3 linked regions of the Homo sapiens genome follow. The protein of the gene in region 2 purifies or fractionates together with the protein of the main gene of each other region. This does not show direct contact. Each region holds a gene or a part of one and is shown on either strand. Other genes may lie near its edges. The genes, in order: STYX, RNGTT and RPRD2.

Region 1 (3,655 bases), on a different chromosome or scaffold from region 2:
ATACCTTCTGGAGATCCCTGCATTTCCATGCACAAGAACTTTTCCTGAAAAACATGAATTCATTATTCTAATAGAAAAACACCTGAGTCAGTAGCTGAACTACATTGAAACCACAGTAAAGTAACTCCTTATATACTATAATCACTTGGATATCTTCAAATCTTTACAATTTGTTATTATCAACTGTGTAGAGAATATAGCAGACTCTTATTAAAGAAACTGAAAGCTCACAGAGAATTTGAAAACAGTCTACAGGGATACTCCAGAAAGCCTATCCAAATGAAACAAGTAATTGGGAAAATACAAATTTGGGAGTAAGCTACTACATATAATTGTAACTTCCATATCCTGCATTTAAGACAAATACCAACTAAAAAATTAACAAATAATCAAAATATAAACATTAGTTAAGGAAAGGAAATGTTATTTACCTCCCATTTGTAAGCTCCCATCAATAAATTCCTTAGTCTGGAGGCAAAAGACATGTGGATTAATGTAAGCATAAAATAAATGCATATAATGAAACAAAATGAAACCTATTGAAAACAATTTCCTAATTTATATGTATAAAAATTATTTTGATTCACCAATTTCCAAAATGCTATAAATAGAACTATTACAAGTCCAAAAAAATTAAAGAAGCCAAAATTTAATTTAAGTCCAATACATTCACAATATGATTCCTCAAATTTCTGGAGATCATAAAAAATTTTCTACAAATAATTCTTTTAAAAACACAATCACATAATTTTCAGTCATAGCAAAGTAAAAGTAGCAAGCTTTACAAGCACAATTAAAGGGGCTGGGCACGGTGGCTCACGCCTGTAATGCCAGCACTTTGGGAGGCTGAGGCAGGCAGATCACCTGAGGTCGAGAATTTGAGACCAGCCTGATCAACATGGAGAAACCCCGTCTCTACTAAAAATACAAAATTAGCTGGGCATGGCGGCTCATGCCTGTAATCCCAGCCACTTGGGAGGCTGAGGCAGAAAAATCACTTGAACCCGGGAAGCAGAGGTTGTGGTGAGCCAAGATTGCGCCATTGCACTCCAGCCTGGGCAACAAGAGTAAAACTCTTGTCTCAAAAAAAAAAAAAAAAAAAAAAAAAAAAGCACAACTAAGAAGTCAAATCATAAATAAATTTTAAATGATATTTAAAAAATACTGGTACCTACCATAGGGAAAAAACGTATTATATTTTCAACTGGATTATCTGCAATATCCAGGACTAAATATCTGAAAATAGAGTATTTTGTGATAAGCACACTTTAAGTAAAACACTTAAGGTACTTTAAAAAAATAACTCATTATTTCTTGTTAACCATGGCAAGAATGCAAAACAACTTTCAAAGTATCATATTCCCAAGAACTGTGTGGTAGATTTTACATTGCTTGAAGGCATTAAAACCTGAAACACCATGTTAACATCTCTGATATTTAAGTATTTAAAAAATCCATCAGGCTGGGCACAATGGCTCATGCCTATAATCCCAGCAAAAAGAAACTCTTTTGGGAGGCCAAGGTGGGAGGATCACTTGAGCCCAGGGATTCGAGACCAGCCTGAGCAACAGAGGGAGACTCCATCTCTACAGAATATTAAAAAATTAGCTGGGTGTCGTGGTGTGCACTTATAGTCCCAGCTACTAAGGGGGCTGAGGTAGAACTGTGTGAGCCTGGAAGTCAAGGATATAGTAAGCTGTGATTGGGCCACTGCACTCCAGCCTGGGTAACAGAGCAAGATTCTTATCTCAAAAATAAATACATATTTTATTTGCATATAATGAACCATCTGGTTAAAATAGAAAAATCACAAGCAGGAAGATACATTCCTCTAGATTAGAGTGGACCTAGAAATAAAGACAAAAGTACCTGTAATCGTTATGTTATTCTTTTATTTCTACCAATTTCTCTAAGACCAGAAGATTGTTCTCTAAGTGGTCCTGTGACTCCTGCTCATGAACCTACAGAGGACATTTCAGAGGAAGTCCAAAGTCTAAGAGAACGAACAAATAAAAACGGAAGGTATGGTCTATGGAACCAGGAGTCAAACATTCACTGTTTGAACTCATCTTTAGTAAAGGGGAAAAAAAAAAAAAAAAAAAACTAGCTGAGAGAGCACCTGTACTGAATTTTACACTTTACAAAATACTTAAAAGGCATTTTAAATATGTTAGCTTATTTTTGTAAAAAACTTCCATTTCTAAGCGTTTCTAAGACCACTGTTTATTAACACAACTATAGGCAATTAGCTAAGTTATTAAATTAGTTTTAAGAACAATTTTGCACTAAAAAATACAGTTTTTCAATGATCATTTAGGTGGTAACAACTTCAAAGAATTCAGGACTTTAATACAGAGAAGCTGAGGCTGAGCATGGTGGCTCATGCTTGTAATCCCAGCACTTGGGGAAGCCGAGGCAGGTGGATTGCCTGAGGTCAGGAGTTCAAGACCATCCTGGCCAACATGGTGAAACCCCATCTCTACTAAAAATATAAAAATTAGCCAGGCATGGTGGTGCACACCTGTAATCCCAGCTACTCAGGAGGCTGAGGCAGGAGAATCACTTAAACCCGGGAGGCAGAGGTTGCAGTGGGCCAAAATTGTGCCACTGCACTCCAGCCTGGGTGAAACAGCAAGACTCTGTTTCAAAAACAAAAAAAAAAAAACAAAAAAACAAACAAAAAAAAACACAGAAGCTGAACCTCAGGATCTGAGGAAAATCCAATATTTAACCTACAAGGATTTCGACAATGACTGTATCCTGAAGTGACTGGGTATTCCAGTTACATAAAATAATGCTTCAGGGGAAAAATGTTAACTCAGAATGAAATTAAATATTTTAACGCATAACATTTTCAGTGTCAAGCACTGCTAGTAGAACTATCAATCTCTAAGAAGCTAGTATTGTAAAAGTTTAAGGAGAAATGGTTCTTCCATTAGGATAAAGAACCTGCACAAACAACATTATAATTTAAAACAAAAAGTCTGTACACATTAGAAATGAATAGTATGATTTTTTGGCTTTTTTGTTTTTTCTTAAGATTAGTTTCACCTTATATAGTTTGATATTTTAAAATACAACATTCTCATTTTCTTTAATAATTCTATGCATATATACGTAAATACACATACACAACAGAGAACGATTTAAAAGGAAATATTCCAAATGTTAACAAAAGTGTTTTCTCTGAATTGTGGAACTGTAGATGATTTAAATATTTTTCTTGGTGTCATTCTATACCTTCCGAAGTACTTATAAAGAATAAGTGTTTCATGGCCAGGTGTGGTGGCTCATGCCTGTAACCCCAGCACTTTGGGAGGCTGAGGTGGGTAGATCGCTTAAGCTCAGGAGTTCAAGAACAGCCTGGGCAACACAGCAAAACCCCATCTCTAGAAAAAAAAAAAAAAAATTAGCCCGATCCGGTGGTGCACCTGTAGTCCCAGCTACTTGGAAGGCTGAGGCAGGAAGATTGCTTGAGCCTGGGAGGTCAAGGCTACAATGAACAGAAATCATGCCAATGCAATCCAGGCTGGGCAGCAGAGAAAGATCCTATCTTTGAAAAAAAAAAAAGTATTTCTTTCATAATTATAAAAAATTCAGGCCGGGCGCAGTGGCTCACGCCTGTAATCCCAGCACTGTGGGAGGCCAAGGCAGG
Region 2 (3,655 bases):
TGCAAAGATTTACTCCTGTATTTTCTTCTAGAAGTTTTGTAAATCTAGCTAGTTTATTTCTATATTTGATCTTAGTTGCACTGTATCAGTATGATCTATATATACAGAGAAGAATAATTTGTAGAAGGTAATATTAGAAAGATACAGGCTGGGCATTGTGGCTCATGCCTGTAATCCCAGACTTGGGGAGGCTGAAGTGAGAGGATTGCTTGATCCCATGAGTTTGAGACCAGCCTGAGCAACATAATGAGACCCTGTCTTTACCATAGAAAAAAATTAGCTGGGGATGGTGGTGTGAGCCTGTAGTTCCAGCTACTCTGGAGGTTGAGGTGGGAGGATCACTTGAGCCCAGGAGGTCAAGGCTGTGGAACCTGATCATGCTACTGAACTCCAGCCTGGTTGACAGAATGAGATCCTGTCTCTAAAAAAAAAAAAAAAAAAAAAGATACAGCTTAAATATTAGGATATCCTTTAATTAAATAGAAATAACAGGAAAAGCTTCATTTTGAAGACTGTAGGAGAGTCAGCAATATTGTCATGTTTTAATTACTATTTTCAAACTAGTTATATTCGTCTCTTCTCACATAAAGATACTACTCGAGAATGGGTAATTTATGAAGGAAGGAAATTTAATGGACTCACAGTTGTGCATGCCTGGGGAGGCCTCAGAAAACTTACAATCATGGTGGAAGGGGAAACAGGCACGTCTTAAGTGGTGAGAAAAGAGAGAGGGCATGTGAAGGAGGAACTGTCAAACACTTACAATCTTAGTGGTGAGAAGAGAGAGAGAGGGCATGTGAAGGAGGAACTGTCAAACACTTACAAAACCATCAGATCTCATGAGAACTCACTCACTATCACAAGAACAGCATGGGGGAAACCACCTCCATGATTCAGTCACCTCCCACCAGATCTCTCCCTCATGGGGATTGTGGGGATTACAAATTGAGATGAGATTTGGACGGGGACACAGAGCCAAACCATATCAGTAGTTAAAATGATCTTGAATATGTTCTGAGAAAGAGTTTAAGAAAATAAATTTTCTTTCCTAGCTGGTTTCTTTCTTTTAAAAATTTATTTAGAAAGATTATAACCTAACTTGAAAATACAGTTAGTTGGTTTCTAGAGAGCTTCAAGGTAACTTAATTTTTATTGTACTATATATCTATCAGTTAATTATTTTCTGTAGCTAGTCACTTTTGTTGATTATATTTAATTAGTATCAGGCCCCATATGAATTTATATTTCTATTAGTTTATTTGCTCTGTTCTAGCTTCTGGATTTTAGAAAATAGGATTTGACTATTTTGCAAATATATGCCATTGATCATGAAGAGGACCGTTTTTTTTCTACTAGAGAAATTTAAAGTTTGAGGGTCAGAAGGATCTTGTGTGTATGTGTTTTATGTGTCCTTTTGAGTTGTGTGTTTGATGAAAATACCTCCTTATTTAAAATGCTTGGAATCTTCTAGCTTTAGGAGAACTTGTTAAACAGTAGAGACAGTTTTACATCAATAAACCTATATATTACACTTAAACTTCTAGCTAGTTATAAATTAGATTCTAAGCAATTCAAACTGACAAGTTTTCAAGTTATAAGGGTGTTTCAAGTTAAAAAATTAAAAAATGTAATTATTTTATAAACTAGCTGAAATGTTTTGATTGCAGGTTGGAATTTTAAAGTAAATGTGGCCTCTGCAGTGATTTGTTAATTTTAACCAAAGCTACTTTATTTTCTAGGTGTTCATTGTACTCATGGCTTCAATCGCACTGGTTTCCTCATATGTGCCTTTTTGGTGGAGAAAATGGATTGGAGGTATTTGTATCTTGTTATAATGGAAGATGTATTTTGTAATAAAAAATTTTATTGATATTTTAGTTGCAGAATTTTGTATTGTCAAGTTTTTGGTGAACTCATGATTAATGTAATTTGAACTGCTTTTCATTTTAGATATGGTTAATCTTTATACTACCATTACTTGGTGTGTGTGTGTATGTGTGTATGTGTATATATGTATGTTTTGTTTTGTTCTTTGAGACAAGGTTTCCTCTGTCATCCAGGCTGGAGTGTAGTGGTGTGATCATGGCTCATTGCAGCATTCACCTCTTGGGATCAAGCAATCCTCCCGCCTCAGCCTCTCAAGTAGCTGGGACCACAAGTATGTGCCACCCATGCCTGGCTAATTTTTTCTTTTTTGTCTAGTGAGGAGGTCTCCATATGTTACCCAGGCTGATCTTGAATTCCTGGGCTAAAGTTATCTTCCACCCTTGGCCTCCCAAAATGTTGGGATTACAGGCATGAGCCACCACACCCAGCCAGGTGTTTTGCATTAACCAGCAAATCACTTTGAGTGCTTATGAATTTCATAAACTGTATATTCACTTTTTCAGATTTTTTTCACCTCTTACAGAATTATCAGAGACAGATTCTTCCAATATTTTGTATTTTAGTATTTTTGGGAGAGTGTTACTCCATTTAAGCCAATCAACATGTCTTTATTGAGCATCTGTTATTTTTGAAGTGTGTTTTTAGATCCTGAGAGATTACGACTTTAGTACCCAATATTCTTAAGAGAATATATTACTAACTGAATTTTCTTGTTGACTGAGGGAGCATCATTATTTATGTTTACAAAGATTTTCACATAGTAGGTCCTTTTTTGAATATAATCAGTTGAAGTACACATATGATTTTGAATTTTGCAGTATGCATTGTTGGTGGTTCTGTACTGCATGTACTTTCTAGCTCTGACCATTCAGATGCTCTCCACAATGATCTCAGTTTCCTATGTCAGATTTAGCCTATGCTTATCCTCTCTTTGATGATCTAGACTCTTAGTGCCTGGATCTGTTGAAAGTTCCTGTAAAATCAATATGCTTTTACTTTGCTCACATTGTTGTTTTTTTGACTGATGTTTTGCTGCAGAGTCAGACCTCAACCTTCAAGACTAAATTCTTCACAGACCCTATCTAGGTCTCTACTATATACTCATAGCAATTTATTTTTAGAATTTCAGAATTTTCTGAATACCTTATATTAAAACCTTTTCAGAATGAATGTGTCCCTTAATAGATTGAATGACTTGAGGGTGAGGATTGTGATTTGCCCATTTTATAAACTTCTGTTGTACTTTATATGGAGCCTTGAATATAATAAGTGAGTTTTTGATAAGCCTGCATAAATAGAGGATAGCGAGGAAATTGCATGGTGTTTGTTTCCTATAGTATCGAAGCAGCAGTTGCTACTTTTGCCCAAGCCAGACCACCAGGAATCTACAAGGGTGATTATTTGAAGGAACTTTTTCGTCGGTATGGTGACATAGAGGAAGCACCACCCCCACCTCTATTGCCAGATTGGTGTTTTGAGGATGATGAAGACGAAGATGAGGATGAGGATGGAAAGAAGGAATCAGAACCCGGGTCAAGTGCTTCTTTTGGCAAAAGGAGAAAAGAACGGTTAAAACTGGTAATGTTTAAAAATATTATAATAGGTTTTTTTTTTCCTTTTTCTGCAAGCTTATTGAGATTTATAAAAATGGAATATTGGCCATGTTTCTTTAGCTAGGTTTGTCAGATGATTCATCCTAGCCCTTTCTAAAAAAAAAATTTTTTTTTTTTGGAGAGAAAGTTTTGCTCTGTTGCCCAGGCTGGAGTGC
Region 3 (3,655 bases), on a different chromosome or scaffold from region 2:
ATCCCAACTGCTTGGCAGGCTGAGGCAGGAGAATCACTTGAACCCAGGGGGCAGAGGTTGCAGTGAGTCAAGATCATGCCACTGCACTCCAGCCTGGGTGACAGAACAAGAATATGTCTCAAAAAAAAAAAAAAAAAAAAGACAAAATGGATGTCATTAACACAATATTTTCCATTTTGTCCTCCTAGTTCTTCAAAGCATATGCTAATTTACTACAGAGAGGCTAGTCCAATTCGTCTCTCACAAACTGGGAATGTAATTTCCAGCACTGTAGACAGTGTCTGGAATGTAAATTCCAGACAGAATTATCTCTACTTGTAGATTGTAGAACTTTCATCTACAGGTACAGAACTACTTATAGATGAAAAACTGAGGTTCACAGTTTAAGTACTTTGCAAAGTGTCATCCAGTATTAAGTGACCGGAGTTAACATGTTAACACAGGCCTCTTTTATATTTTTCCATATTGATTCCCATTTTACCATTAAAAATGGGAAAGAAGGTCTGGGCCTGGTGGTTCACGCCTGTAATCCTACCACTTTGGGAGACCAAGGCAGGCAGATAGCTTGAGCCCAAGAGTTCAGCCTGGGCAACATGGCAATACCTCGTCTCTACAAAAAACATAAAAATTTGGCCGGGCGTGGTGGCTCACGCCTGTAATCCCAGCACTTTGGGAGGCTGAGGTGGGCGAATCACTTGAAGTCAGGAGTTTGAGACCAGTCTGGCCAACATGGTGAAACCCCATCTCTACTAAAAAATACAAAAATTAGTTGGGCGTGGTGGCATGTGCCTGTAATCCCAGCTACTCAGGAAGCGGAGGCATGAAAATCACTTGAGCCCGGGAGATGGAGGTTGCAGTGAGCCGAGATTCCGCCACTGTACTCCAGCCTAGGCGACAGAGTGAGACTCTGCATCAAAAAAAAACAAAAACAAAAACATAAAAATTAGCCAGGTGTAGGCCGGGCACAGTGGCTCACGCCTGTAATCCCAGCACTTTGGGAGGCTGAGGCGGGCGGATCATGAGGTCAGGAGATCCAGACCACGGTGAAACCCCGTCTCTACTAAAAATACAAAAAAAAAAAAAAAAAAATTAGCTGGGCGCGGTGACGGGCGCCTGTAGTCCCAGCTGCTCGGGAGGCTGAGGCAGGAGAATGGCGTGAACCCGGGAGGCGGAGCTTGCAGTGAGCCGAGATCGCGCCACTGCACTCCAGCCTGGGCGACAGAGCAAGACTCCGTCTCAAAAAAAAAAAAAAAAAAAAAAAAAAAAAAAAATTAGCCAGGTGTGGTGGCATGGTTCCAGCTACTCAGGAGGCTGAGGTGGCAGGATTGCTTGAGCCCAGGAGGCGGAGGTTGCAGTGAGCGGAGATCATGCCCTGCACTCCAGCCTGGGCAACAGAGCCAGACTCTGTCCCTCCCCCACCTCCCCACAGAAAAGAGAGAAAGAAGAACGAAGTACAGAAATGATAATCTGGGCAAATTGCACATCAAGTCCATATGCCTCCAACTGCTGCACCTGTAATTTCTTTCACTAAATTATAAATGCTTCCTTCTGATAAACAGAAATTAAAGCAATTCTGTTCCTTAAGTTCTTGATTAGCTATTTCACATTATGTTGGCAAACATTTACTGATTGCTAACTGTACGCCAGCACTATCCTAGTTGTTTGGGGACAGGGCAACAAATAAGACAAACTTGTCATCTGGTGGAGGGAAGCCAGACAATAAACGTGTAACAAACAAGGTAATATCATATACTGAAAATAAGATGATGTGACAGCAATTGAAGGCACTACTTGAAATAAAGCGAAGCCGGGTGCAGTGGCTCACGCCTGTAATTCCAACACTTTGGGAGGCTGAGGTGGGTAGATCGCCTGAGATCAGGAGTTCAAAACCAGCCTGGCCAACATGGTGAAACCCTGTCTCTACAAAAAATACAAAAATTAGCCAGGTACCGGGTGCGGCGGCTCACACCTGTAATCCCAGCACTTTGGGAGGCTGAGAGGCAGGTGGATCACCTGAGGTCCAGAGTTCAAGACCAGCCTGGCCAACATGGTGAAACCCTGCGTCTACTAAAAATACAAAAATTAGCCAGGCATGGTGGCGCATGCCTGTAATTCCAGCTACTTGGGAGGCTGAGGCAGGAGAATCACTTGAACCTGGGAGGCGGAGGTTGCAGTGAGCTGAGATCGTGCCATTATACTCCAGCATGGGTGAAAAGAGTGAAACTCTGTCTCAAAAAAAAAAAAAAAAAAAAATTAGCTGGGCTTAGTGGTGCACGCCTGTAATCCCAGCTACTCAGGAGGCTGAGGCAAGAGAATCACTTTGACCTGGGAGGAAGAGGTTGCAGTGAGCTGAGATCACGCCACCGCACTCCAGACTGGACGACAAAGCGAAATTCCATCTCAAAAAAATTAAATTAAATTAAATTAATTTAAAATAAATAAAAAACAGATACATGTAATTTAAAAAAATCTATTAAGACTCCGTATTAAAAAAAAAAAAAAAAAAACAAGAAATAAGGTGATCAAAGTAGGTCTTTCTGAGGAGGTAATAGTTGAGATTTGATCTAAACAATGAGAAGGAGGCAGGATGTGAAGAAGCCCGAGGTAGGCAGAGCAGATGGTACAGGACTTACAGATCAATGTAAAAGAAATTCAGACCTTCAACTTGTTGCAATGGGATATCACTGCAGGGTTTTAAAGCAGAGGAATGACATTTGTTTATGCTACAGAAAGATCACCTTAGAAAATGATGGTCTGAGGTCAGGAGTTCGAGACCACCCTGGCCAACATGGTAAAACCCTGTCTCTACTAAAAATACAAAAATTAGCTGGACGTGGTGGTGCGTGCCTGTAATCCCAGCTACTTGGGAGGCTGAGGCAGGAGAATTGCTTGAACCCTGGAGGTGGAGGTTGCAGTGAGCTGAGATCGCGCCACTGCACTCCAGTCTGGACGACAGAGCGAGACTCCATCTCAAAAAAAAAAAAGTAAAGAAGGATAAAATAAAAATATCTCTGGAACATATCCTTAGATAGCCTATTTCTCTAAATTATTTCCTTTTATATGAACAAAAGTCTCATTACACACTGAAATAAAGGATAAAATTAAAATATCTCTGGAATCTAATAGTTACTTAAATTTATACTGAGGTCTAAATATAAATATAAATTACTAAATAACGGATGTCAGAAGAAAAAAGAGAAGCAAAGTGGCATCAGGAAAATGGACAGAAAGGCTGGGAATGCCAAAGATACCTGCTTCACAATTTTTCCTAAAGCTGACTTAGAAACCAAACTCAGAGTCCAAAGATACCTGCTTCACAATTTTTCCTAAAGCTGACTTAGAAACCAAACTCAGAGTAAACTAAGTATAACTGTAAAGAAATAAGAACTTAAATGAAAACAAGGCCCATGCATAAACTGTTTTCATTGCGCCCCACACCATTCTGCTGAATATTTCTCTCAAAACGCTTTATTTACAATGAGACCAGTGAAGTTCATTAAATGTAAATACAAAACGACTAAAATTACCCTTAATCATTTTAGAAAGTTAAATTCCATTCCACTAGAAAAACAACATCATATTTAGCCAAAAGCACTTAACTATATAAACTATACACAATGCACTTCAACTGACACACTGCCCTCCTGGAGCATTC

What was found.
Region 1: the proteins of RNGTT (region 2) and STYX purify together in Homo sapiens (affinity purification with mass spectrometry, with the first as the bait; one large-scale study listed by BioGRID). This does not show direct contact.
Region 3: the proteins of RNGTT (region 2) and RPRD2 purify together in Homo sapiens (affinity purification with mass spectrometry, with the first as the bait; one large-scale study listed by BioGRID). This does not show direct contact.

What each region holds. Positions count from the first base shown.
Region 1 is NC_000014.9:52,754,132-52,757,786, reverse strand, and holds part of STYX (serine/threonine/tyrosine-interacting protein), read right to left. Parts: intron 1,237-3,655; coding exon 1,176-1,236; intron 469-1,175; coding exon 432-468; intron 45-431; coding exon 5-44; intron 1-4. UniProt on the Homo sapiens protein: Catalytically inactive phosphatase. Acts as a nuclear anchor for MAPK1/MAPK3 (ERK1/ERK2). Modulates cell-fate decisions and cell migration by spatiotemporal regulation of MAPK1/MAPK3 (ERK1/ERK2).
Region 2 is NC_000006.12:88,904,525-88,908,179, reverse strand, and holds part of RNGTT (mRNA-capping enzyme), read left to right. Parts: intron 1-1,739; coding exon 1,740-1,815; intron 1,816-3,224; coding exon 3,225-3,465; intron 3,466-3,655.
Region 3 is NC_000001.11:150,367,058-150,370,712, reverse strand, and holds part of RPRD2 (regulation of nuclear pre-mRNA domain-containing protein 2), read right to left. Parts: intron 1-3,655.